2 linked regions of the Homo sapiens genome follow. Each later gene encodes a partner of the first gene's protein in a complex. Each region holds a gene or a part of one and is shown on either strand. Other genes may lie near its edges.

The links.
Region 2: the proteins of DBF4 (region 1) and CDC7 are in contact, whole or in part, in a crystal structure (PDB 6YA8), measured with the Homo sapiens proteins. Residues at the interface, in NP_006707.1 of Homo sapiens: Thr210, Arg211, Thr212, Gly213, Arg214, Leu215, Lys217, Pro218, Phe219, Val220, Lys221, Val222, Glu223, Asp224, Met225, Ser226, Gln227, Leu228, Tyr229, Arg230, Pro231, Phe232, Tyr233, Leu234, Leu236, Met239, Pro240, Ile242, Asn243, Tyr244; in NP_001127891.1 of Homo sapiens: Asn56, Val57, Phe58, Ala77, Gln78, Leu79, Gln80, Ile87, Ile93, Pro94, Thr95, Ser96, His97, Pro98, Ile99, Arg100, Ile101, Ala102, Leu105, Gln106, Thr109, Lys121, Tyr122, Cys123, Phe124, Arg125, Asn127, Asp128, Val130, Leu143.

What each region holds. Positions count from the first base shown.
Region 1 is NC_000007.14:87,871,019-87,881,834, forward strand, and holds the start of DBF4 (protein DBF4 homolog A), read left to right. Parts: upstream 1-5,474; 5' UTR 5,475-5,714; coding exon 5,715-5,760; intron 5,761-7,034; coding exon 7,035-7,207; intron 7,208-10,816. UniProt on the Homo sapiens protein: Regulatory subunit for CDC7 which activates its kinase activity thereby playing a central role in DNA replication and cell proliferation. Required for progression of S phase.
Region 2 is NC_000001.11:91,500,185-91,511,063, reverse strand, and holds the start of CDC7 (cell division cycle 7-related protein kinase), read right to left. Parts: upstream 10,214-10,879; 5' UTR 10,116-10,213; exon of another isoform or gene 9,411-10,115; 5' UTR 9,348-9,410; coding exon 9,233-9,347; intron 3,211-9,232; coding exon 3,127-3,210; intron 2,803-3,126; coding exon 2,667-2,802; intron 1-2,666. UniProt on the Homo sapiens protein: Kinase involved in initiation of DNA replication. Phosphorylates critical substrates that regulate the G1/S phase transition and initiation of DNA replication, such as MCM proteins and CLASPIN.

The sequences.
Region 1 (10,816 bases):
CAGGCATCCCTCTCCTAGATGCTGCCACAGGGCCGGTACAGTTTGCTCTTGCTGGCGCCCAAAAGCACTCGCCCTAGCTTCTGCATCCACTCACCTGCACTCCCCATCATGTGAGGGGTGGAACAGCGAGTGAGTAGAGTTTGCCCCTGCCGGTGCTCATGCACTCCAGTTCCCATGCATGAAGGCGTCAGGGAAATACCGTGATTCAATGATACAGGCTGCCATGCTGTGAACTGCCCTATGTGGAGGCCCATTCGGGCAACAAAAACAGCCTCCAGATAATAGCATTGAACTGAGGCCCTTCAGACCAACAAGCCAAAGGAAAGTGAATCTTGCCAACAACCCCTAGTGAGCTTTAAATTAGATCCCTCCCTGGTTGAGCCTTGAGATAAATGCAACCTCAGCCAACACCTTCACTGCACTGTCCTGAGAGATCCTGAGCTTGCTTAACTAAGCTGCATCCAGATTCCTGACACACAAAAACTGTGAGATAATAAAGATTAGTTATTTTAAGATAACTACATTTTGGAATAATTTGTTATACAGCAACAGGTAGTATCTATTGAGATGATACATACGGTTTTTCCTTTTTGGTCTGGTTACATGGTGATTTACACTGCTTGATTCCTGGAATAAACCTCCATTTACTCATGATGTTTTATCCTTTGTATATAGAATTGGTTTTCATTTGTTAAATTTTTGCTAAGAATTTAACCATCTATGTTTATTAGGGATGCTGATCCATAATTTTTTGTATCATCTTTGCCTTTCTTAAAATGCACATGTGAGAGAATTCACCAGTGAAGCTATCCAGACCTGGAGTTTTCTTTAGTAGATATAAGAATATTTAGGTTATTTCTTCTCCTGTAAGCTTTGACAGTTAGTGTACTTCAAGTAATTTGTCCATTTCATTTAAGTTGTTGAATTTATCAGCATAAGGTTGTTCATAATATTACTTTGTTGTCATTTTAACATCCATTGGTTCTGTAGTTGTGTACCTTTCACTAATTTATTAAAGATCTTAATAAATGAAGAAATATTACCATTTCATAGACTGGAAGAATAAATGCTATAAAGATATAAATTCTTCCAAATTTATCTATAGATTCACAGGAATCATAACCTCTTACTTAATCTTCTTACATAATCTTCTTACTTTTGTGGGTTTGACAAACTCTTTTCCAAAACTTACATGGAAGTAGAAAATGGCAAGAACTACCTAAAGTTTTGAGATGCAGCTAAAGCAGCATTTACAATGAAATTTATAGCATTACATGCTTGTATTAGAGAAGGCCTAAAATTAACTATCTAAGCTAAAAACAAAAGAGCAAATTAGAACCAAAAGAAGAAGAAATGAAAATAAAAACCAATAAAATTGAAAGCTGAAAAACAATAGGAAAAAACAATAAAAGCTGGTCCCTTGAGGCAAAAGAATAAAAAATAAATAAACGTCCAGTCAGATGATAGAGGAAGAAGAAAACCTTTGACAACATCCCACACCCACCATGACTGAAAGGCTTGAGCAAGCCTTTCAATCCTTTTCAATGAAAGGGAAATTCCTCGGTTTGATAAGAACCATTTACTACTCTCATCATTTCTATTCAACAAAGTACTGAAGAATTTAGCCAGTACAATAAAGCAAGATAAACAAATTAAATGCAGGCTGGGCACAGTGGCTCACGCTTGTAATCCTAGCACTTTGGGAGGTCGAGGCTGGCGGATCATCTGAGGTCAGGAGTTCAAGACCAGCCTGGCCAACACAGTGAAACCCTGTCTCTACTAAAAATACAAAAATTAGCTGGGCATGGTGGCAGGCGCCTGTAATTTAAAGTGAACACACTTAGGATGTCTTCAAGGGCCTGATAATGCTGAATTTACCCTGGTTTCCCAGCCCACAGTCACCTGAGACATTAACTACAGTTCCACAGCCACTAACCAATCCTATCCTTTCATGCACTTAGCCTGCAAAACTAAGAATTTAACCTTACATATAACCTTAAGCCCTCCAATTCACCAGGATAGTGAGACTATGAAATGTGAAAATTAATAAAAATAGATCAGAACACATTTCAGAAGACGACATATCAATAGTTGGCAAATGAATCAAACAGGAATGATTATACCCAAATGAGCAGGAGATAAAGGATGAATCTAAGCTAGGTTTGCTATGGACAGGAAAAAATAATTGCTGAGCCAGGTGAAGAGGCTTAGGCAAAAGAAAGAAAAAAAAAGTGATAAGTACTACAAAATTAATTTGTCTAGATTCTAGAACAAAAAATTTATATTTGGGTATGTGTGAGGTAATCTGAAAGATCAGATTAGGTCTCTGATAATCACAAAAAGTTGTGGAGTAGACTGAACAATATTATCTTCATTTATAGATAAGTAAATTCTAGCATAGAAAGGTTAACTTTTTTTTTTTTTTTTTTTTTGAGAGGGAGTCTCGCTCTGTTGCCCACGCTGGAGTGCAGTGGCGCAATTTCCGCTCACTGCAACCTCCGCCTTCTGGGTTCAAGTGATTCTCCTGCCTCAGCCTCCTGAGTAGCTGGGGTTACAGGCGGGGACCACCATGCCCAGCTAATTTTTGTATTGTTAGTACAGCCAGAGTTTCACCATGTTGGCCAGGCTGGTCTCCAACTTCTGACCTCGTGATCCGCCACCTCGGCCTCCCAAAGTGCTGGGATTATAGGCTTGAGCCACCGTGCCCAGCCAGAAAGGTTAACATTTGCCCATGGTCACAAAACTAGTTAGGGACAGGGCCAGCAATGAATAAAATTCATTTCTCTTGATTCACAGCCACATATTCATTTAATTAGATCATGATTCTGCTCAATGTTCTCCAATTTTGCCTAATATAACTCTTGAACAAAGTTTCTCACCATAAATAACCCTGCCCCCATTCACTTCTTCTTAAATGTCTACCCTTCCTCTGAAGAAATGTTTTCAAGCATATTTTCAAGATCTACTTTAAGACAAACCCTACCCTCTTACCAACAGACCTGATTACTGGACAATAAAAAGGAGGTTTCTATCCTTACTGACTACAGCCATATCCTTTCTGTGGCTACTAACAGATTTAGGTTCCAGTAATATTTTAAAAACTAACCTTGGATAATAGATTAGAAAATTACTAACTATTGCATAAAGCGGACTTCCTGCTTATTTATTGCTTGGAATTACCATCTTCAGTGCAGTCGAGGGTGAGTCTAACCGCATAGGGTGCAACTATGTTACTGTCCTTCCTCTTCACGGCAAATAAGACACACAATTCATCTTTCACAAGACCATAAAATGGGACTTCCTTTTTTAAAAAAAAGTTCCTCAATAGAAGCATGCTTAAAAATCTTTCCCACATCCTCTAAACCTTCCAAAGATCCAGTCTTCCCTTCATTATACTTTCCTACAATAACAAATTTTTTTGAAAGAGTACACTCAACCTGTCTGAACTTCAAGATTATAATTTTTATCTAGTACTGTACTTATCTCTGCCACCTACTCAAATTACCCTTAAGGAAACCAAGGATACCTGAAACGCCAAAATCAAATACTTATTTTTCAAGTCTTAACCTTATCTGTCCTGGGGATGAAGGAACTGGTGCAGTGTTCACTAGAATGATAGTAATTATGGAGCTCTTAAGGAGCTCTACTCTGTGCCAGGCACTGTACTAAGCATTCAAAAATGTTCATTTAATCTTCACAACATCCCTGAGAAGTACTACCCCCTTTTAATAGATTAAAATTGGGGCTCAAAATTACCCAGAGGCCAAGTAGTTAGTGAAGCCCATATGATTCCAATGTTTGCAGTCTCTTCCCAATTCTGTGGCATTTTCTCCATCTCTTTCACTATTTCATCAACGACGCTTATAATCAATTCTCTTATTTCACATGCTCTCCTTGGCAATTTCATTTCCTCCCAAAGCTTTAACTACATTCTATATTAGTGCTTCCCAACTTTTTAAATCTTTCTGTAAATATAAACATTTTGTGCTCTCTGTAGCTTATATTTTGAAAATAAGTTTTTTCCCATAGAAATTACAATATTGAATATGTTTGTTCAAACTACACTTCCTTCCACCACTCAAGATCTGTTAACCTCTAATGAATTGCCCCATGATTGACATCAATAGACCTTGATGCAGAAATATTTTATTGGAGAGATATCAAATCAATCTCTATTTCCTCTTCCCATGTCCACTTCTGCTAGACATTTCTCTCGAGTCATAAACATCTTTAACTGTCTAATAAGCATAGTTCCATGACTGTCGCCCCAGGCCCTTCAACATAAACCTGTCTAAAACCAAACTCTCATTTCCCTTAGCAAACCTGTTCTCTGCGTTCTCCAGCTAATCTTGTCACAACCCACCCTTGTCTATTCTTTAAGGTACCTACCTGCAAAACCGTAACGCTGATACTCTGACTTCCTTGAGCTACCAGGTAAAAAAATCAACCACTACAGGAGTGCCTATTATGGCCTGGAGTAGAGGAATGCAAAATAGTTCAAAATATCCTCTTCCTCCTGAAGAAACAGATTTTTTTTTTTTTTTGGAGAGGCATGTTCCAACTTATAAAATTAAAATATATTCACAAGCATTTTAATTTGATCTTTAATCTCTGTTTTACAGGAAAAAAAAATGAGATGTTACTTTCCACTCCTTCATTGTTGAAATAAACTTACACTCAACTAAAAGAAAACAGGTCTGAATACAATAAAAGTCAACAGGACAGCGCAAATAGCCAACTACCCAAGGACACAAAGTGACCTGGAGGCGTTCTGCGGTGGCGCTGCCGTCAAGGCCGGGGCCGCCTGGCCAGACCCTCCCTCAGACGCCCCCCGGGGCCGCCCTCACTCCCGCACGTCCCTCTGCAGCTGTCCTCAGCCGGTGGGGTCGGCAGTGACCGCGGGAAAACCCCGCTTGCTGTGCGACCCAGGGCGCGCTGAGCAGGGGCTGCGGCTGCCGCCGCTGTCCGGCTCCGGTTCCGGCCCCGGCCCCGGGCCCGGCCAGAGCTGAGTCCGGACTCAGCCAAAGCCCCTCGCCTTCAGCTTCCCAGACGTCCGACCAGTGGAAAATTAGCATACCTGGGGCAGAAGGCAGCTGCAGGGCCGGCAGTCCTGGCAAACCTAGAAGGCGGGAATAACCCTGGTGACGGGCGGGGCCGGGCTCCGGCGCTAACTGCATCCACTAGGTTTGGTCAACACAGAGCCGCGCCAACTCTCTGAGGCTGCGCCAAGACCTGAAGCGGCGGACCGAGAGCCCGGGTCTGAGACTGAGAGAGCAACGGAATGGAGGCGGGGTAGAGGCGGAAACACAACCTGCAGGGCCAGAGCGAGGCGCGAGAAGGACGGCGGCGTGAGGGGGCGGGGCGCGCAGCGCGAGAAGGCAGGCACGAGGGGCGAGCGCGAGGCGGGGCACGGCGCGTGGCGTGAGACGGGGCGGGGCGCGCGTATCGGCGCCGCGGCCGCGTGACGCGTTTTCAAATCTTCAACCGCCGCAGCCCACTCGTTTGTGCTTTGCGCCTTCCTCCTCCGCGCCTTGGAGCCGGATCCGGCCCCGGAAACCCGACCTGCAGACGCGGTACCTCTACTGCGTAGAGGCCGTAGCTGGCGGAAGGAGAGAGGCGGCCGTCCTGTCAACAGGCCGGGGGAAGCCGTGCTTTCGCGGCTGCCCGGTGCGACACTTTCTCCGGACCCAGCATGTAGGTGCCGGGCGACTGCCATGAACTCCGGAGCCATGAGGATCCACAGTAAAGGACATTTCCAGGGTAAGAAGCCCCTCCTCCGCCTGCAGTCCCTTTAATCCTTTCCTCCCCTCGTGGTTCCACCATTGATTCTTCAGACTTCTCCCGCCGGGTCCTCAGCTTCTTTTCTTCTGACCGGCCTCTGGGGTCTGAAGGAAGGAGCCCCCGTTCAGTGTTTTGCCTAAGAAGGAACGGATCCTGACCCGGCCCCTCGAGCGCTCTGCCGTTTACAGCGGCGGTCCCAGATTGATTCCCGGTCGTGCCTTCGGTTGAAAACTAGCAAACAATGTGCAGATCCGGGACCTCGCCGGGACTGCGGCGCTGTCTGCTCCCGGGCTCTCGCATATGCTAAGCCTCCGCCCGGGCCCTTGGAGGCGACGGACTGCATCCTCAATTTAAAGTCAGACGCGCTCGTGGCTTTTCGCTTCAGGATTAGATTGAGTGATTGTGGGTGGATTTTTGGTCTTACCCTTGAAAGTTTATTTTCCTTTCCTCATAAGTTGGGGGAAAGCATTGTATTTCAAACACCCCATTGCTGGTTTCAACATTACAAACAGGGAAACAAAAGCAAATTTCCATTTTCAGTCACTTTATTTGGTGAAACATTCCAGCACCTAAGTTTTTTGTACAGGTGTTTGTGTGTGTGTAGTAACTACCAATTTAAGAACAGATTGCGTTTGAAAAATTAATTTTTAAAGCAGTTGCTTGGATCTCAGATCTGTTTCTAATGAAAATAATGAAAGGTTTAGTTCTTCGTAATGGACCGTTAAGTTCTTAATACGTAGACAAATTGTATGTGAAATGGACCGTTTAGTTGTTAATATGCAGACAAACTTTATATGAAACTAAAACTTGAGCAGTCTGAAACCCTTGAGGACTAGGTTATTCTGCGTAACAGAGGATTCTTTCATCGCTAAATGAAGTTTAAACACCAGTTTTGAATGTTCAGCAGAATGGCAGATGCTCAATAAATAGTTGAGTATTAAATATCCCCATGGAGTTTACATCCTAAAAAAAGAAAATCTTTCAAAAGAGTTTTATATAGTTCCGTGCCTCAGGAATAAACACACGAATATTTCTTGCTGAGTCAACTATTATTTTACAATATGCGGTCTGTGAAAGTATATAGGGCATTTTGCCTCTATCCTAAGTAGTACTACAAAGAAATACATTTCAATGCTAATAACTTAAACTGGTAGGGTTGTAAGGATTTTTATTCTGTAATATTGTATAATGAAATATTTTAAAAATAGTAAAAGTGTCTGTGTAAAACATCTGATTCTAAACATCTTTAATAGGTGGAATCCAAGTCAAAAATGAAAAAAACAGACCATCTCTGAAATCTCTGAAAACTGATAACAGGCCAGAAAAATCCAAATGTAAGCCACTTTGGGGAAAAGTATTTTACCTTGACTTACCTTCTGTCACCATATCTGAAAAACTTCAAAAGGACATTAAGGATCTGGGAGGGGTAAGTGAAAACCGTACACTGGCATAGAAGGAAAAATTTGTAACTAGTACTTTCTACTGTGTAATCATTTAAATTTTTCATTTTGGAAAACGCTTCTATTAGCACCAAGCTTAACATTTTTATCAGCTGTTTATCGTTAACAAAAAACCATTTGTTTTAACCTTTTGTGGACTGACAGACCTTTCAGGTTTCTCTGATTAGCAGTCTAGTGTAAAGTTCTTAGAGTGTAAGACTCCCCTGTCCTAGTGGAACTGCTCATTGACTGCTTACTGTAATGTTGGAATGTCCTCCAGATAACAGCAATTTCTTGATTATGAATCTTGGGGAGCTACATAAGTTTGTCTGGACTAGTGTAACAGTTAAGAATGTTACTACAGAACAGCCATGCAAACCACAGTTAAAATTGTTCCTGAGTGATACAGATGTTGTTTCAACAGAATGAATGTTATTAAAGGAAAAGAAATTTGCATTAAGAATCTGGAATACCTTCTTTCCTACCTTATACACTGATTAGATGATTGGGAAATTAGAAAACTCAGGCAAAATTCTAGGACCTTAATAGGATTAAGGTTGATATTGGCTGAATTTTGGCAAATGAGGTAATTAAGATTTTTTTCTGTTTAAAAGGTTCATGCTGGACTTTGACTTTCTGAAGGTCTGCGTCTTTGAATGTCTAAACTGATCCTTTCATTCCCAGACTAGTAACTTTTCAATTTATTTTTATTTTTATTTTGAGACGGAGTCTCATTCTATATGGCCTAGGTTGGAGTGCAGTGGTGCGATCTCAGCTCACTGCAACCTCCTCCTCTCAGGTTCAAGTGATTCTTGTGCCTCAGCCTCTGTCTCCTGAGTAGCTACGATTACAGGCATGTGCCACCACTCCTGGGTAATTTTTGTATTTTTAGTAGAGTCAGGGTTTCACCGTGTTGCCCAGGCTGGTCTCAAACTTCTAACCTCAGGTGATTTGCCCACCTCAGCCTTCTAAAGCGCTGGGATTGCAAGCATGAGCCCTCCAGGCCCAGCCGATTCCCAGACTAGAAACTTATCAGAAGAACATGTGCTAACAGGTTTCCTGGAACTGTTAATATATTTTATTTACTTATCTCTGAAAAGTTATTCTACTTTTTTACTATTCATTTTGTTAAACTAAAACACTGTCACATGCTTGTAATAGTTGTATTTATGGTAATGATCATATGACAGCATTCTTAAAGGTCATGTTTTCTAGGCCTGCCACCCTATTGACTATACACCTATTAAGAGTATCTTAATGTGTTAAGGACCTTAGACATTGAGTAAAAAATACCCCTTCATCTTAGAAACAAAGTACTTGAGGTCCAGAGAAAGTAAATGGCCCAATTAGAGCAGTATTAGCTTCTTAATTCCCACAGCAACATAGTACCTGCACCATTCTGTTCCTCTAGCAATCAATGGCTACAAATGGCTATCTGGCTGGTAATTCACACCTGTAATCCTAGCACTTTTGGAGGCCAAGGCAGGTAGATGACTTGAGGCCAGGAGTTCAAGACCAGCCTGGGCAACATGGCAAAACTCCATGTCTACTGAAAAATACAAAAATTAGCCAAGCATGGTGGTGCATGCCTGTAGTCCCAGCTATTCGGGAGGCCGAGGCATGAGCATCACTTGAACCTGGGAGGCGGAGGTTGCAGTGAGCCAAGATTGTGCCACTGTACCCCAGTATGAGTGACAGTGAGACCCTATGTCCAAAAAAAAAAAAAAAAGGTAGCTCAAAGTAGCTATCTGATACAGTTTGATGACAATTTTCTCAAATATGATGAACAACCCATTAACTCTAGGTCTAATGGTCTAAATCAGTGATACTTAGATTTGTGTTTTTATCAGTAGAACCCTTTAAACAAAATAATATTCAGAAGTCCAATGTGTAAAGCCTGTAAAAAGGGAACCCCTTGGGCTAAAACAGCAGTACAGAGGCTAAAGCAAGAACTACTTGCCCCGTCACCTTCTTTCTTCTATCTCCACAGCAGTTCCTGAGGTAATTGCAAGAAACAAATTTTGAATTACTTCTGCCATACATAATAGTTGAGGGACCTTTTGGTTTTACATACTTAGTCTTTACCCCTGAAATGATTGAAGTAGACCAGTGAAGTTAGGAGCATATTAAGGGTGTAAGTTCCCAAATTTTCCTTTGGATTTCCCAAAAATCCAAAGCTGTGGATTTTCAATGGAATTTGATTTATTAACTTTCTCCTAAAAAATGTCTTATTTATTGAATTCTGATCTTCCCATACTATCTTTTCTATAATTAATGATATTTAATCCTCAGGTCCTGGTTTCTGTCTTCAGCACATTTACTGTTTCTATCACTAAAAAAGATTTTGTCATAACGATCTTCTACATGAGTTAATTTATCTTCACATCATTACTTTAGGTGCCTTTTTAATTCACCATTTCACGTACTTTGGTTTCTATAATCTCGGTGAAAACATCTTAATATCCCATTTATCTGCAGAGTATGCTTCTGACAAATTTAACCACTGAGAGCACAGCACCCAGATTCTGATATAAAGGGGAAATACCTTTAATAGTGCAAGAAAAGTAGGTGTTACAGAACCATCTAAGGAGGACATGGGATCAGCCACAGTTAGGTCCATGTCTAAATAGTTTTGGCTAAAATAAGGCAATTGGAGAGGAACAGAAATGTAGGCCGATACCTTGGCGTATTAGCTTGAACTGTAAAATGTTTGATGTTCGTCATGATCACCTTGAGTCATCAGAAAATACGTTTTGAGTTTACTCTTTAAATGGCATAGATTCAACAATATCTAATACATTGAAGACCCTGGTAAAATTGATTCAACAAATGTTTGAGTATGATGTGCACTGCACTCTGTGTTTTGGTAGATTCAAAAATGAATCCAGCCAGGCTCGGAGGCTCACGCATGTAATCCTAGCACTTTGGGAGGCTGAGTTAGGCGGATCACTTGAGGTCAGGAGTTTGAGACCAGCCTGGCCAACATGGTGAAACCCCATCTCTACTAAAAATACAAAAATTTAGCTGGGCATGGTGGCGCACACTTGTAATCCCAGCTACTGGGGAGGCTGAGGCAGGAGAATCTCTTGAACCTGGGGGTTGGAGGTTGCAGTGAGCCAAGATTGTGCCACTGCACTCCACCTGGGCAACAGAGCGAGACTGTGTCTCAAAAGAAAAATAAAATAAAAAATGAATCCTTATGTCCATCCCATCCTCATGTTCTAACCTAGCTAGAGATGACATTGGTACAAGTAATTGTGTTAATAATACAACATAGAATGTCAAGAGAAAGGAGAGATTAGTTCCAGCTGAGGAATTGTGGGTTTTGTTCACACACAACTGGAACACGGCTTTGAAGAATGATGAAGATTTGGGCATGTGGGAATTCATTCAAAAATTATTCCACCACTGTCTCCAGTATATCAGCACTATTTTAGATCCTAGAGATACAAAAATAAGTAAAATATAACCCTCTAGGTATTCTTTGTCTAGTGGAAACCTCAGACAACTGAATAATTTATGTTAGAGTGTTGTCAATGCTTTGACAGAAATATGTAGAAATTGCTATTAGAACACAGAGATAGGAATGATTAACT
Region 2 (10,879 bases), on another chromosome or scaffold:
CCTCATCATTTTGATAGAGTTATCTAGACAAGGGACTAAGCCTTAAGTGAGAAGACAAGTGAGAAGTCAGTGAGAGTACCTGCAGAGAAGTGATACCTACAGACATGAAAATTAATAGCGAGAAAAGAAAACTGAGCTTGGAAGAAGCCAAGTTAGAGAGCCAAATAAGAAAGGAATTTTGAAGGAAGAGTTATTAGCATGGAAGTCAAAGAGAATAACAACTGAGGGAAGGCTTTTAGTTAGGCAAAGAATAATTAACTGGTAATTTTTAAGACAGCAATTTAAGTGGAAAGGAAGAAACAAAACAGAAGGAAGGAAAATATAACACAATGGAAGCTGAGCCTGAAGACAATTTGCCTGACTGCATTGTAAGATCAGATGAAGGCATTTTTAGCATGTACTTTTTTAAGCACAGAAAAAGAAAAAGTGGTAGAGGGAGACAGTTAAAAATATAGAAAAAGAAATGATCATATTTAGGGTACAAGAATGTATGCAAGCATTCTTTATAGAGGCCATCTCATTTTCTTGTCTTCTATAATACACAGAAGGCTGAAACAAACAGGCTTATTCATTCATTCAGTATTTAGTTGGCACTGTTATTTGCTGTTAGGGATTATAGACATTAGTGATGCAATAGTGAATAAAATTTACAGAATTTCTGTCCTCATGGAGTTTACTATCTAGTGGACAATACAGATAATAACAAGGTAACTTATAATGACAGAATACGATAAGGGCTTTGAAAGAAATCTAAAGATGCTATGACAATAAAAAAAAATAGGAGAATCTAATTTAATTCAGAGAAGACATCTTTCAAGCAATGTCACTCTTTTTTTTTTTTCTCAGAGGCAGGGTCTTGTTTTGTTGACCAGGCTGGATGGAGTGCAATGGAGTGATCGCAGGTCATTACAGCCTCAAACTCCTGGGCTCAAGCGATCCTCCTACCTCAGCCTCCCAAGTAGCTGGGACTACAGATGTGTGCCACCTTGCCTGGATAATTTTTAAGTTTTTTGTAAAGATGGGTTCTTGCTAGGTTGCCCAGGCAGGTCTCAAACTCCTGGCCTCAAGCAATCCTCCCAAAGTGCTGGGATTACAAGCATGAACTACTGCGTCCAGTTTCACTCTTGCTCAGATCAGAAGATGAAGGGTCAGCAAGCAATGACTGGGAGAGGTCTTCCTGAATGGGGAAACAGTCTGGGCAGTGGCCCTGAGGTAAGAAAGCTCTTGAGACAAATTTGATAAACTAAAGAAATGGAGCACAGTGAGGGAGGTGGGAAGATAGGCATGAGAAGGTTGAATTTTTTTTTCAAAGTACATAGGGAAACCACTGAAAGATTTTAAGTGGTGGAACTAATGACCCAATTTAAGTTATATACATATATATTTTATATTTTAAAGATCATTCTGGCTGCTGTGTAAAGACAGAATTAAGGGGAGAAGGAAGAAGCAGGCTACAGTCGTAGTCTAGGCTTCATCTGAGGTAGTGGCAGAGAAGACAGAAAGACATGGATGAACTTCTAGATATACTTTAGAGCCAAAATGGCTAGGACTTAGTGATTAATGTGGTTTAGGAGAGAAATAGAGAAAATGAGGATGATTTCTAGGTTTCTGGCCCAAACAAGTGTGTAGATGGGCCATTTGCAGAGACGGGTGGATAAGAACATTTGTTGTGGTGTTTTTTTTTTTTTTTTTGGTATGTTAAGGTTTAGGTTTGTCTTTTAGGTTTGAGATATTTATCAGGCACCAAGTGGAAATGTTAAATAGGCAGGTGGATATACACAAACCTGTAGTTAAGATAAAAGGTCTGAGATTAACTATATACTTTTGGGAATCATTACTTTAGATCATGTGGAAATGGAGGACACTAAGAATACAGAGAAACCTAAGAGCAAGCACGAGGAACTCCAATATTTAGGGGTCAGATAGAAGTGGAAGAGCTAGCAAAGACACTGAAAATGAAAGGCCAAATGAGGGAAGAAGAAAACAAGGAGGGTGTGGCAGGACAGAAGTCAAGACAAGGGTTCACGTCAATTGTGTTAAATGATGCCTAGAGTAATGATTGACTCTATAGTTTCCAGTTTAGCATAGAGAAGAACAGCCGCAATAGGTATTTAGTGAAAGAGAGGTGTGGAATGAAAACAATGTATGCAGATAATTTTTGAGAAGTCTGGCTGTAAGGGGGAACAAAGAAATGATGGAGCAGGTGGAAGAAGGAGGGCAGTTTAGGAGGGTAAGATTCTAAATCATGTCCATATGTTGACAGAAATGACCTAGCAGAGAGAAACCATACCAGATGATTCTGTTATTCTAAATAAAATATTAGATGAGGTCGTCAATAGCTGGGGAAATGTGAAATGTGAGTTCCCTACATTTACAAAATAATGTAAACCATGAAAGCCAAGGTTTATGATTTGGCAGGAAGGTTACAAAAAGCAGTGATAAAAGACAGGAAATCAGGTCGAGCCTCAAGGGAAATCCAATCTAAAAGAATTACTATAAATTTAACTAACTATTGCAAGGTTAGAAGGAAAGTGCTAGCAAATTGCAAACACTTGACTGAAAAATGTATTTAATTCACATATAATCCCCTCATCCCTGCTAAATATCTACTTTAAAATCTTATAAATTATATACAAGTTCAATTAAAATATGTTTAAATTGCCTACCCAGCCACTGTTAGGCACTGAAGTTCAGCTGCAATTCTTATAGGATGACTTGTTGGAATCAAGTGTTTTAGAGCAATTTTCTCTTCAGGTCCTACTTGTAACTGTGCTGTGGCCAAATAAACAGAGCTGAAAGTGCCTGTAAAACAATTTATTAAATTTTTCAATATCTGGTTTTTAAAAATGTTAATGAAACAATTCTAAGATAGATTGTAAAAACTGTTTCAATGGCATAATACATTAAAACAGGACTTCATTTTACAGTAAATATTTATTATTTATTCTTTCTTTAAGGTTGAAAAAGAAAAGCTGTTACCATAATTAGTAATAAAACTATGGTCTTAATAGTCTAAAAAGTGGTATATTTTTCAATAAGAAATAGTAATGAAAACCAAGACTAAAAAAGGAAAATAGAATGGAAAAAAGACCTCGTAAAAATAGTAAAAGCATATCCCCAGATTACCTTCTCCAATTTTGTCCTCAATCTTAAACACATTACTAAGCTGTGGTACAGCTTCATAAAGCTTCTCAATATCTTTTTTAACACCTTTCAAGGAAACAAAAATTTAGAGTTTTAATCAATGACAGTATATTTTACAGTTTCTTAAAATTTAAAAAGCTCAATGAAATAAATTATAAAATATGAGTAATTAATTATACATAAGTTTTAATAACATTGTGATAAGATTAAAACCCATCAAGTTGCTATAACTCACACACACCTCTTGAACAGACAAAAATGACAGTCCCAGAATTAAATACACCAAATTTCTACTATACTGGAATTATATACTAAGAGATACATTGTTACTGTAGAGATTACAACATGAAAAAGCACCAAATTTTTAAAATAACTAAACAATTTGTGCTGTGATCACTAGATGGCATGACAAGGACACATTGCGATGTTCTTGAAAACTATTTCCCGTAAAGATACAAAATCTTAAAGGCTTGGTAAAATTTTATGTATTAAATATTCACACTATATTTTCAGAGAGAAGGCCTACTAAAGCTCTCAAGCATGTAAAAAAGTATTTTTAAAAATTTGTCCCAATTGCCAGTAGTATCCTCTATCCTTGACTGCAGATAAATTGCTACTTTTAAATAAGTATCAGTTCTTTATAAAAATGTACATAGTTAAAACAAGGGGAGGCAATAATACAAAACCCAGTAAACTACTGGATACAGAAGAGAACTAGATAAGTCTTCAGATTTTATTACAGTATCTAGGCTCTACTAGCCCTATATAGCATAAGTTTAAGACATTTTCAAAGCACCGGCACATGCAGTATCTTTTGAGGTCTTCCTAACAGTACTGTGAACTTGGCAGAGCAGGAATGATTATCCTGATTTTTCAGATAAGGAAACTCAATTCAGGGAGGTTAAATCATTTGCCCAATTTCACAGAGGTGTTGCTGATTATATATATTTTCTAATTTTCTTTCTTTTTTGAGATGGAGTCTCACTCTGTTGCCCAGGTTGGAGTGCAGTGATGTAATCTCCACTCACTGCAACCTCTGCCTCCTGCGTTCAAGAGATTCTCATGCCTCAGCCTCATGGGCAGCTGGAATTACAGGCACGCAACACCACGCCCAGCTAATTTTTGTGTTTTTAGTAGAGACGGGGTTTCACCACAATGGCCAGGCTGGTCTTGAACTCCTGACCTCAAGTGATCTGCCCACCTTGGCCTCCCAAAGTGCTGGGATTACAGGTGTGAGCCGCCGCACCTGGCTAGAACTAATTCATTTAAATAAACGCTGTCTTAAAAAATGCTCAGCAATGGGTATGTAAAAAAAACCAATAAATTTGATGCAGCCACTAAGAGCTTGGTCTAGTAAAGGAAACATGTTATCATTCTTAATACAAGGTGACACCTGTAATAAAAGAATGTATATACTACTAGGTTGGGGAGGATTTCTGAAGGTGATAGGAAGCCTTCAGTTGACAGCTAAGTTTTGTTCTGAAGCATTCACCAAGTAGTGAAAGTGGAAGAAAACATTTTAGGAAAAATTAACTACGTCTGTAAAGACAGGAACAAGAAAAAAAAAAGGCTTGGATGATTAGGGTAGGGGGAGGGCTGAGAGACAATGAAATACAATGTGGCCTGGGGCGGTGGCTCAGGCCTGTAATCCCAGCACTTTAGGAGACCAAGGCAAGAAGACTGCTTGAGGCCAGGTGTTTGAGACCCTATCTCTTAAAAAAGCTAAAAAACAAACAAACAAACAAAAATTAGCTGGGCTTTGTAACACGGGCCTGTAGTCTCAGCTACAGAGACTGAGGCAGAAGGATACCTTGAGCCCAGGAGTTTGAGGTTACTAAACTATGATCGTGCCACTGTACTCCAGCCTGGGTGATGGAAGAGGGAGACCCTGTCTCAATAATAATAACAATAATAACAATAATAGAAATAGAATGTGGCTGAGGAAGACAAGAGAGAATGCACATGAAAGCTATAGGAAGTTTTTAAGCAGAAAAATGACAAGTGGAGAACAGATGTGAAAGGGAGGAGAAACATTAAGGGTACTTCCACACCACTACTCACTTATTATGCATCTACTCCTCTTTACAAAAATCAAAATGTTTATTAAGGTTTCCTGTCACTTCAGAACAACTTCAACAATTTTAAACAACAGTAAAACTTCCTGGCAACCAAAGTGAATGCAATATCCTCAAATTCTGAAGTGGGAAATGACAGCAGAAAGCAGAAAAGTGCATTCATGTCAAAAGCTGGAAAACAGTACTAAAGACAGACAAATGAAACAGACTTTGAGGACTGGAGGAGGATCCCGAAAATCTATAATATGCTAAAAATTATTTAAATGCCTCTATTTTATACATGAAGGTCTAGGCTTCTATTTTGACATTTTAAGTCACTTTTGTTTTCTGCTGCATAATATATCCAAGTTGGTTTTAATATACCAATAGTCTCCTTAACTACACTCCTTGCCAGCCTGGAGTCTATCTGTAACATAGTAGCCAGTCGGCTTGCAACATAGCAAACAGAGTTTAAACAGAGTATTCTGATAAAGCTAAGTCACCTTGTCACTATTGTGCTCAAAACCTCTAATGGTTTCACATCTCACTCCATTAGAAAGCCTCTTTACATCTCTCTTTGACTTCATTCCAATTACCTTCCCCATTCTAGCCACAATGACCTCCTTGCTATTCTTGAATGCTAGGCACACTCCCATCTCAGGGTCTTTGTACTTGCCGTTTCAGGGTCTTTGTACTTGCCGTTTCCTCTGTTTGGAATGCTCTTCCCCAAATATCTGCACAGGTCACTCCTTCACCACCTTGAAGTCTTAGCTCAAATGTTACAGAAGGCTATGAGCAACCATACTCACTAAAATTACAATCTCCTTCCCCAATACTTCCTATCTCCCCTTCCCTTTTACATTTTCTTAGTAACATTAATCACTTTTGAGCACAGTATTTACTTCTTTTGTTTACTCTCTGTCTATTGTCTAACTACCACAGTGTTAATTTCTGTTTTATGGTTTGATTTATCCCTAGCACCTAAAAAAGTACATGTATATAACAGACAATAAATATTCATCACATAAATGAAACGTTTTCAATATCTTGTCATGGATTAAAACTGACACTCTAGGCATATAGTCATGGTTATTCTGGGGCTTCATGTACTCTCTGGTTTATACCTCCTGGAACTAGGGGATAATACATAATATAAGCCCAAACTGGGACACTCTTGAGTGAAAAGGCAGCAGGAATAATAATTACATTGTGACAATAGCCGTAAGCTAGATCTGTCCCAGGCAAACAAAGATGGTACCCATAGCCCATTTTAGAAGCATGGCTAAGGGTGTCATTGTAGCAAACAGAATGAAGCAAGCCTTCCTTCCAGTAGAGTTCACCAGTATGGAGGAGACTTTCAATATAGAGTTTATACATCATTCTTTCACTGAACAGATCTTTCTCACTTATTAAAACTTGGCATATAGTAGATACTTAAAAAAAAATAAAAGCTTACTGGCCAGGCATGGTGGCTCACACCTGTAATCCCAGTGCATTGGGAGGCCAAGATAGGAGGGGATCACTTGAGGCCAGGAGTTTGAGACCAGCCTGGGCAACATAGCAAGATCCTGTTTCTAAAAAAAATATTTAAAATTAGCTGAGTGTAGCGGCACATGCCTGTAATCCAAGCTACTCAGGAGGCTGAGGGGGTAGGATTGCTTGAGTGCAGGAGTTAAGGCTGCAGTGAGCTGTAATTGCACCACTGCACTCCAGTGACAGTGGTGTGACAGAGAGACCATGTCTCAAAAAAAAAAAAAAAAGCTTGCCAAAACAGTGAAAGAATAAACATTTGACCAATATTATGCCAGATAGTTTGTGCATTACAGCATTTTTCTTAATAGGAAAAAATAGAAACAATCTATAGGGTCAATAGTAAAAGGTGATTGAATATATTATAATATAATATGCAATGGACCTTAAATCCAGTTGTAGAATATTTACTACATGAGCAATATTCAAGATATATATTAAAAAAAATGGAGATCAGAAATAAGATCCCATATTCTGGTTCTCTTTTCAAAAACAAAAACAAAACAAGATCCCAATTTAGTTTCTAAAAAATGTACCTATGTATGCCTAGAAAGGCTAAAGGAATATAACAAAATGTCAACAGTGGCAATATTTCAATAATGGGAAAAGACTTTATTTTGGCTTTCTTTACTTCAAAAATTTCAATAATCATGTTTATCAGAAAAATGTTATAAAAATCTGACAAATATCTCAAAATAAAGAGACATGCTATTCATCCATTACACTAAGTATTTTACTTTATATCCTTACATTAAATCATTCATTCAAATATTTTCAAGCACCTACTATGTGCTGGACACTGTTAAGCTCTGGGAATGCTAAGATATATAAAACATCCAATCAAAAATATAACTTCAATAAGGAGTAAAGTTGATGAGGTGCAGGCATATACCTGTCTCATGATCTAATTTGATTTACTTTCCCAATTAGATTACTAGACTGTTATGTGCCTGGACCTCATCAGCTTTGCTCCCTATTGAAGTTATGTTTATATAACTTTAGCTGTTATTAAGATCATATTTAAAAAAGAACCATAAGAGTAAAGTTTTAGCACGTTTTATAATTTATCATATTATAATGTCCAATGTTCTGTTACATAAACGCTACAAAACTTTTGAAATCCGTAATAAAATTCACCCCATTCATTACTTCCCAGCAGATTTTCAGAATATTAGAATAGTGGCATTCTCCTAAACATGATGCTAGAACCAATTCAGAGTCATCCATTCAGATACTCTGCTGAAGTCACAACATACTTTAGAAACCAGAGGAGATACTGCCGCCAAGGGGTTTACAGTGGAGACAAAATGCAGAGTCCTAAGCAATAGAAAAAGAATACTACAATGACTGTGTTACTGTGTTATGTGTCCAGTGACTAGTAAGGGAAAGATGAACTAAAAAAACAGCTAACTGCTGGAAAAATGGAAAGGAAGAGGAACAGTATCCATGAAACTGGATGAAAGTGGCATTTTAAGATTATTCTAGCACCAACATACAAGATGAACTGAAGAATGGAAAAGTGCAAGCAGGCAGCATAGGTGAGAAACTGTTGTAAATCAGGAACAAAGTGTAAGGAAATTAATTAATGTGGTGGAAATGGGAATGGAAAGAAGACACAATGCCATACTTACTAAAAAGAAATAAAGCTAGGTGACGATATGGGGAACAAATAAAAAGCATCAGCTGAAGATTAAAGTTTCAAGTTTAGGTAAGTGGGATAACTGACTTCCATCAAAGCAGAAAGTATGTGATGTCATATTTTTCTAGGGTGGGGTTATAAAGAATATATGGACAAAAGGTCAAAATAAGTATCTTTTAGACAAGCACAGAATTCACTTAAGACAAAGATGGGAAAGATGATCTGGCTACCCTTTCAGAAAAAAAAAAATACAGTCAACTAGAATTCCTCTATTTAACAAATATTTATTATTAACAAATACCTACTATGTCCCAGGTCCTGTGCCAGAGCAGAAATGAAGGTACACATGCGAGTGTACAAGAGCAGGCACTGCTTGACCCTGTCTTATTCACCCTAAGGTCTGGTTTACGGTCAAAGAACATTTCATGCTGTACACTGAGATATGGTGCTTTATTATTGCTACAAACATTTCATATTTTTTTGTCTGTGAGTTCTGCTTTTGAATACTTAAGTGATGATCTCCAGTGTCAATTTCTACATTTAAGCTTAAGGCAATGTGGTGAGTAGAGATAAGAACACAGATACAAAAGAGAAATTTAATTTGGGCATCATCAAATTTCTGCATTCTTAATTACCAATACTGAGACCATAGCAACTTCAACCGTAAAACAGGTTGTATTACAGTCTTCCAAATCGCAATTCAGTCCTACATTTAGATCATACGAAGCTCTGTTTTAACACTGTCCTATAGAAACATACAATTCACTTTATAAGATTCAATCTTATTTTTTGAGAGGAATTGAAAACACAGAATTGTTGCCTGAAAAATCTTTATAACTGTACATCTTTGGATTTAAACACGTACCTGCAAGTTTAAAATTCTGCTCGTTTTTTTTTAAAGAGCCTTCAGCCTGAAACCGGTCACGCTGGGGAGAAAAAGCCATTGGCTCATCCATCTGAATCCCCAAAGACGCCTCCATCACAAGCCAATTGAGATGCAAAATGCCAGCTAAGGGGTTACATCCACAGGGGGAGCAAAGCAGCTGTGAAAATTAGAACACTAGAGAAATTTAGATCACTCGCTAAACCACGCACTAAAAACATGCTACTGCCCCCCAAAGGGGCAAACATTTTCAAACGCACGATGTGTCCAAACCTCCACAGTAGGGCATACTGTGGCCTTGTCTAAGGAATTCCATGTGCTTTATTTTCACCTATCAGAAACACCGGCAGGGGGCTGCAGGGAGAATTTCCCGGCTTGGGCACCCGCGCAGCAGCAGGCGCAGTGGGAAACGGCGAGGCTGCCAGTCCGGCACAGCCAGCGGGACCGCGTGGGGGAGGGGCCGAGCGCCGGGGGCGGTTTGAAGTCAGGAAAAGAACTGAGGGAGAAAACCTTTTCGCCACTGACAGGAAGCGCCAGGAGGCTCGTCCAAGGCCCCAAGCAAGTTGACGGAGAACTGATACGACCCTGGCCACGAGTACTGGGCGGAGGAGGAGAAGGGTGAATGAATGGGAATCCGCCGGCCAGCGCTGGCCGCGAGCTCAGCCGGGAAGGACCGGCTTCCCTCGGGCCAGAGACCGAACCAGATGCTTAGTGCGCAGGCGCGCGACTTTCCCGCCGCAGGTCGGAGGGATCCGAAGGGGGGCGGGAAAAGGAACTGCACGGCGAGAAAACCGAAGTCACGATCCAGAATTCGTTCCTAATCCCTCACAATCCCGCGCCATGGAACAAACCGTCGGAAACTCACGGTTTAAGGGAGTACGACTTCTGTGGCTCCCCAGATGCCTGGGTCGCCGTCTCCAAGAGATCCCCACCTACCGAGTCGATCGGATGCGCCTGCGCAACACTTCCCGCCGCCGCTCTGGTTGCACATGCGCACACTAAAGCCCTCGACCCCGCGGATTCCGCTACTGGGCGTTTGCGCAAGAGGGTGGGGTTTCTTCCCGCCGCCTTGGCCAGCTAGAAGAGCGGTTACGGGAATGAAGCCCGTGGATGATCTTAAAAAACAGGGTGAACCATAAGGCTAAGGGCCCAGCATGATTTCCAGGAAAGAAGCTAGCTCAGAGAAGGAAAAATCTCAGGTGCTGACACATCCCTATATACGTGGCCGGCCGCACAACACATTGGGCACTCCATGGATAAAAGGCACTTTCTTGACTCTGCTTTTATTTCCTTTTCGTTGAGTGCCCTACTTCCCCGTTAAAAACAAGCAGAAAATGTAATTGCTGATTGTTTGTGGCTGTGTTAGTAGAAATTAGCACAGTGGCAGGAAGGCAGTGTATACTATTTACTGAGCCCTTGGCTATGAGGTAGGTGGGTTTTTCTAGGGGCTGGAATCATAGTGAGCAAGATAAACACCATCCCTGTAGGAAGCTAAATTCCAATGAAGCGATGACAATAACGGATGAATAAATGAACAGTATTCTTTCCGGCATTGATTACTACTTGAGGGAAATACTGACCAGGAAGGTGGCATCTAGATGGTCAGGGAAGCCCTCTCAAAGAGACCTG